2 linked regions of the Homo sapiens genome follow. The protein of the gene in region 2 purifies or fractionates together with the protein of the main gene of each other region. This does not show direct contact. Each region holds a gene or a part of one and is shown on either strand. Other genes may lie near its edges.

The links.
Region 1: the proteins of JAZF1 (region 2) and DDI2 purify together in Homo sapiens (affinity purification with mass spectrometry; one large-scale study listed by BioGRID and IntAct). This does not show direct contact.

What each region holds. Positions count from the first base shown.
Region 1 is NC_000001.11:15,651,958-15,655,457, reverse strand, and holds part of DDI2 (protein DDI1 homolog 2), read right to left. Parts: intron 1-3,500. UniProt on the Homo sapiens protein: Aspartic protease that mediates the cleavage of NFE2L1/NRF1 at 'Leu-104', thereby promoting release of NFE2L1/NRF1 from the endoplasmic reticulum membrane.
Region 2 is NC_000007.14:27,894,296-27,897,795, forward strand, and holds part of JAZF1 (juxtaposed with another zinc finger protein 1), read right to left. Parts: intron 1,122-3,500; coding exon 925-1,121; intron 1-924. UniProt on the Homo sapiens protein: Acts as a transcriptional corepressor of orphan nuclear receptor NR2C2. Inhibits expression of the gluconeogenesis enzyme PCK2 through inhibition of NR2C2 activity.

The DNA.
Region 1 (3,500 bases), on a different chromosome or scaffold from region 2:
TTTAGAAACAAGTGTTTTGCCATGCTGCCCAGGCTGGTCTCAAATCCATAGGTTCAAGTGATCTCCCCACCTCAGCCTCCCAAAGTGTTGGGACCACAGGCATGAGCCACCATGCTTGGCCAGAAAGAAGTTGTTAACAAAATACTTTCACCTACTATGTCCAGAGTATTTATTCGGATGATATTAGGAAGTCGATGTTCTAAATAAAAAGGACCTGATATGTAGAATTATTTCATTACTTAAACATTACAAAAATTAGCACAAGCTATACTACCAGCAACAAAAGGTTATTTAGGTAAAAAGCCATTTCTTTTTAATTCTTTGAAGTTGGTACATCCCCTTCACTAAGCCTGGAAACATATGTGTATCTGTTTTAATCTTCCAAACTTTTACTAAAATAAGGTAATTACCAAAAAAGGATAACTGTTATTAGTAGGTTAGAAAACACTGCTATTATCAGCTAATGTTTCTTAAATAATGGCACCAAGACTGTGGAGGTTAAAAGGAAAAAAAAAAAAAAGACATTTCATAAAATGATAATATATCCTCATATTAACACACAGCATCACGACTAAGATGATAAATTACACCCCAAATGCAAAACCTTGTAAGGAGCTATGTCAAATTCATTCAAGCTTACCTTGCAGGTAAGATTAAAACTATTAAGTTAGTCTCTGTCTGGTTGTTCAAAATTCCTCCCTTCCTACAAAATACTTAAGTTACAACCAAAACTGTAGTTAATATAAAAACTTGAGCCAAAAAGTGATGGGAGTCAATTCTGTTGTTTTTTTTTTTTTTTTGGACACAGGATCTCACTCTGTCACCCAGGCTGGATTGCAGTGGCAGCGATGATGGCTCACAGCAGCCTTGACCTCCTGGGCTTAGGTGATCCTCCCATCTCAGCCTCTCAAACAGCTGAGACCATAGGCGCGCCACCATGGCTGGCTAATTTTTTTTTTAAATTTCTTGTAGAAACAAAGACTCACTATGTTGCCCAGGCTGGTTTCAAATTCCCAGGCTCAAGTGGTCGTCCTGCCTTGGCCTACCAAAGTACTGGGATCACAGGCATAAGCCACCACGCCCTGACTCAAACTGTACTTTATACATAAAACTAAGCCAAAAGGTGATGGAGTTGATTCTGAACAAAGTCAACCTGGAAAACTCCATCTGCCACCCACACCCATTCTAAAGCTCAATGACAGACATCTGAATGTTCTCCAGTAAAACAGTGGCAAAAGCTGCCTGGCTGTTTTTAAAACTCTTACCACTTTCGTCTTTAGGATAAAGCTATTCCCTGAACTTGTAACTCTTAATAATTTACTGTACTAGAAAAAGCAATGTGTGATACTAGTCATACTGATGAATAATGCCAGCACAAGACTGTAAAATAACCCAAACTCAAAAGTAAATTCTATTCAGCTTCTAGAAAATACATCCCAGAGTCACCGTTCTATAATAAATGGGGGATTTCAGCAAAACTGTTACCCCATTTTACCTAGAAAACTTAGCTCCATCATTACATTTAAACAAGCTAAATAACTGAGACTTAGAAAAAAGTATTAGGTAGCATGATTTCAATATATACAGTGCTAATATGGCCTGATGACAATACTGTAATCTCACACCATAACACTGCATTTTCAGTAACGTTCAATTATGCTGGTCAGGCATGGTGTCTCGTTCCTATAATCCTGTCATTTTGAGAGGCTGAGGCGGGTGGATTGCTTGAGCCCAGGAGTTCAAGACCAGCCTGGGCAACATGGCAAAACCTCATCTTTACAAAAAATACAGAAATTAGCTGGACATGGTAGCAGGCACCTGTAGTCATAGCTAGTCAGGAAGGGGAGATGGGAGGATCAGTCTGGGTGACAGAGTAAGACCTTGTCTCAAAAAAAAATTTTTTTTTTAATTAAGTAAATAAAAATTTATACTTCTTTTTGTTGGTTCTTCTGTCTTCGGTGAAGTTAGGGCTGCTCACACACAGTAGCAATGATACTTTTCAAAATAAACCAGGCCTAAGAGGCATGGTGGCTCATGCCTGTAATACTTTGGGAGGCGGAGGCGAGAGGATCTGCTTGAGCCTGTGAGACTGAGACTGAGGCTGCAGTGAGCCATGGCTGCGCCACTGCACTCCAGCATGGGCAGCAGAGCAAGACTCTGTCTATATAAATAAAATAAAATAAAATAAATAAAATAAAATAAAACAGTCCTAAGAAAAGGAAAGAAATAGGGAAATACTGTTGGACTCAAAAGTTAACATCTGCTTACTGTCAAAATTTTCTTTAGGAAAATCACAAAAACAAAAACATCCAAAAAAAACTTCCTAAAAAAATTTAGGAAGCTTCTAAAATGTGTCTAAGCAAAATAACCCCAATCTATCTTAAACACAGCAATGGACTGAGCTGTTCTTAATCTGTTGAAATACTAAAAAACAGAATGTTTCTCTTTTTTATGAGATAGTGTCTCACTCTGTTGCCCAGGCTAGAGTGCAGTGGTGCCATCTTGACTCACTGCAACCTCCGCCTCCCAAGTTCAAGCAATTCTCCTGCCTCAGCCTCCCAAGTAACTGGGGTTACGGGGGGTGTGCCACTGCACCCTGCTAATTTTTTTTTAATTTTTATTATTATTTTTTTTTGAGATGGAGTCTCGCTCTCTTACCCAGGCTGGAGTGCAGTGGTGCGATCTCAGCTCACTGCAAGCTCCGCCCCCTGGGTTTATGTCATTCTCCTGCCTCAGCCTCCTGAGTAGCTGGGAATACAGGCGCCTACCACTACGCCCGGCTAATTTTTTGTATATTTAGTAGAGACGGGGTTTCACCGTGTTAGCCAGGATGGTCTCCATCTCCTGACCTCGTGATCCACCTGCCTCAGCCTCCCAAAGTGCTGGGATTACAGGCGTGAGCCACCGCGCCTGGCCAATTTTTATATTTTTAGTAGAGATGGGGTTTCACCATGACCAGGCTGGTCTCAAACTCCTGACCTCAGGTGATCCGCCCCCCCCCCCCCCCCTCCGGAGCCTCCCAAAGTGCTGGGATTAACAGGCGTGAGCCACCACGCCGGGCCAGAATACAGACTTTTTCATTATTGTATTAAGAGATGGGGTTTGGATATGGTAGCTCACACCTGTAATCCCAGCACTTCGGGAGGCCAAGGCAGGAGGACTGCTTGAGCCCAGGAGTTGGAGATAGGCCTGGACAACACAGCAAGACCCTATCTCTGCTAAAAATAAAAAATTAGCCAGGTGTAGTCCCAGCTACTCAGGAGGCTGAGGTGAGAGGACTGCTTGAGCCCAGGAAGTCAAGGGTGCAGTGAACTACAATCATGTCACACTGCACACTGCACTCCAACCTGGGTGACAGAGTGAGACAATGTCTCCAAAAAAAAAAAAAAAAAAAAAAAAGGAAGATCAAAGAAGGAGGTTAAGAAGACAAATAATGAACACATCTACTACTGGACCATGAGACTAATTAAAAACTGGAAAGGTTCCTACCCCTTCTGAAG
Region 2 (3,500 bases):
GTGCTGTGATTATACATGTGAGCCACAGCACCCAGCTGAAGTTCTAGTTTCTTGAGACATGTAAGTCTACCAAGGTTTTCTTACTAATATTTTCTTTTAAACAACTGAACTTTGTCTTCAGATTATTATAGGCTAATCCTAATGTGGAACTGAGGATAAAGTTTTGAGCAGAGTTGATCCAAATCAATGAAGATGGTACCCTTAAAAGGACAGAAGCCTCTTTAAGGCGAGGACCTGGAGGAGAGCAGATGAGAGTGCTGGAGTAGTGCACATCCACATGTGTGTCAGGGAGACTGACGGGAAAGAGAAGGCAAATAGGAGAGATGGACTGGGAAAAATAAAATGGATTACTTGATTGGTGAATAGGTGGGTATAAAGAAGCAAATGAAAAAGCTAAATTGAAGGGCAAGTTTCCACTATCTATAGAAAAAGCTGGAGAAGACAAGGACTCCCCCTTCTTCTCAAGGTGTTGTAAAAACAATGAAGTCTCCTTGGAAGAAAAATTATATCTAAATTTCTCCAAGACTGCTTAATAAATTATGTTTTCTCTAAAGGATACAATTATTTTAACTGTTTTACAAGAGAAAACGTTCATAATATATTTAGTTGTAAATCGGGTGATGAAATATGTATTACAGAGCCCATTAAAAATGTTGTGTAGATGGGTATGCATGGTAAAAATGGGAAATATATTGACAAAAAATCTACAAAACCATTATCACATGCATATTAACAATAATCTATAAATATTTCTTCAATAATAAATTAAAGAATTTATCAATATGTAGACTAGTGAAAGGATCAACGATGTGGTGGGTCTGTGTCGTCATCTGTCCCCAGCCCCTTTCTGCCCCCAGCACATCACACACACTTTCTCTTTCTCCCCTCTCCTCCTTCTCAAGGCGGTAGGGCCAGGCCACTCACCTGTCGGAGTGCTGCTGCGGAATGAAGAGGAGGGGGTGATGGGTGGGGTCACGGGGGGAGTAAGGCTTCCACTGCTGTGGCGTGGGGGAGTGGACACATTCCCTCGAGACACTGAGCTGGACAGAGTCAGCGAGAGCTTCGGCTGAATCTTCTTCTTTAGGGACTCCTGCTCTCGGCGGGCAGCATCTGTCATGAATCTGAAACAATAATGGAAGGTAAGGAACCTGGGCCATGTATAGAGCATGAGGACTGATGACATTTATTAGAGTTTCAGACATGCACGACCCTGGAAAAGGACCTTGGCCACAGGTCAGTCCCAATCTCAAAAACTCACAACAGCTTCCCTTTTCCAATGCAATGGAATTATCTTCTAGCTTGTTATTTTTAAGGTTTCTCAAAGTCAGGTCCATTTCTTACCCAGCAAATCCTCCTTGCCAGGAAGCTTATACACACAGAATACATCTGCACCCACTGTAATACTTTCAGTTACAAGACTTCCTCTCTTGGAAGGTCTGCTCTCTTTTTCTACCCATAGGAAGCCCACACATCCTCAAAGTTCCCCAACCACTCCTAAGTAGACAGTGCTTCCTTTATCTGCAGGTTGGCAGTATTTCTTCTTTGTACCACTTAACTGCCATCTAACATAAATGGCCTCATGAAAACTTTTTTTTTTAAATTTTTTGGTATTACTTTGATTCTCATATTGTTATTTGGGTTTAAAAACTTTTCTTGGCTAATTGAGTCCTTGCTTCCCTAGTCATGAAGGCAAGGATTCTAGTCCCCAGTTCCTAGCACAGGGCCAGGCCCACCTCAGGAAACACAGACAGAACTGCATACATCTGCCCAGGAAGATTCCAGAAGAAGGGAAGAGAGCAGCACAAGGAAGGAGGTCACCACTGATGATTTGTTTATGTTCTAATTTTATTACTCATAAAGAGAAAGGTGACTTTTCCTGATAGTTTCACTTTGGAAACTTCAGTTATTCTTCCAGTGCTTCTCTGATGTTGGTAATATTCAAACTTTGTTCTTTTCTCACTGTATAATCTACCATTTTGTAAATTCCTGTAATATGAGATTCAAAACAATCTATGAAATGGTATCTCCTACCTAAAGAACATTCACCTTTTCATATTGGCAGGCAAACTTTGTCAGCTGCATTTTTGAAAATTGCCATAGAAAGCATAGTCCATAAATGTATGATAGCGTTCAGATGATAAAACCACAGCTGTCCCCACCACCTAGGCTAAGAAACAGAACATTCCATGCCCCCCAAGGCCTCTCTCCAACACCTCCCGCATCAATTATATTTTGACTATTTCAATATAATTTATCATAAGCTCACTGCATTGCACTTAAACATGGTATTTCACCTAACCTATTTCACATTTTGTCTACAAAATTCCTTAGTATTTTTCCTCACTACACAATGAAGTTTTGGAAGTCAACAGATAGTTCTAATACCTGGCGAAAGCTTGAAGTCAATTAAACACCCAATGAAACAACAGTAATACTGTTACGCTGTCTTAAAATTTCTATTTTTATACTTGGAACATGGATGGCACATTTCTTGAATGGTTCTTGCAATATAATCCAGATATATAAACTGGATTTTATATGCTGAACTGAGCTTAGTAATAAAGCTTTGCCTTGAGCTCTTAGGTTTTGTGCTATAGGATAGTGATGATTTAAAAAGAAGAAAGGAATGTCAAGGCAAAAGAGAATTGTTTGCACCTGGTAGCCAGGTAGGTACTCATTTATCTTCAGATGCAAAACTGGTTCTATTGTCCTTAAACTTCTTTCCCTCCGCCTCATAAACCTCTACTAAAAATACAGACTCACAGAGAAAAGCAAAGAACTAGTGCTTTTTTTTTTATTATCCTAAGAAGAACTGCTAACTATCATGGTGCTGAGCTTCTCACACTGGGGTATGCAGTGCGCCAGGGAGTGGCAAAGCCACAGGATAAACAGGCTGCTGCTTCCAGGAAGGCCGATTGTTCTCGAGGGTTAAGTAATTCAAACTAGTGTTTCAAATAGCAAAATAAACACGGACATGCTTATGGGGGTAGAAAAAAATGTTTACATCTTGCATTTTAGTTAAGAGCATGGTATTTGGAGTCAGGCCGGGGTTCAAATCCTGGCTGGGTTATTATGTAATTTGAGGCAAGTTGATAAACTTCTCTGAATCTCAGGTTTATTCTCTGTAAAATGGGAATGAGAGTAGGTAAGGAATTAACGTACGTCTTTTCCCTTTCTACACGGGAGTCTGATCTTTGGCTACATTTGGTAACCTGCTAAAAGAGTGTGTCAACTATGTTACTAGGCAACACTATCTACGTAAGAATGACCTCTGACTGGTGAACTGCACAGCCTGGAGGATCTAGGAACCTGTAGCTATCTGATAGGAAGCCAAGAATCCTGATTTGGACTTCCCGAGCGTGGTGATCTTGTAGCTGGGCATGGCCCTTGCACAGAATGGGGAGCTATGCCCAGAGCGTGTTTCAAGAGCTTTGGCTCCTATGGGGCGTGAGGCTCTTCTACCAGGATAGCTTCCACTCCTACCTCTCTGCACCTGAACA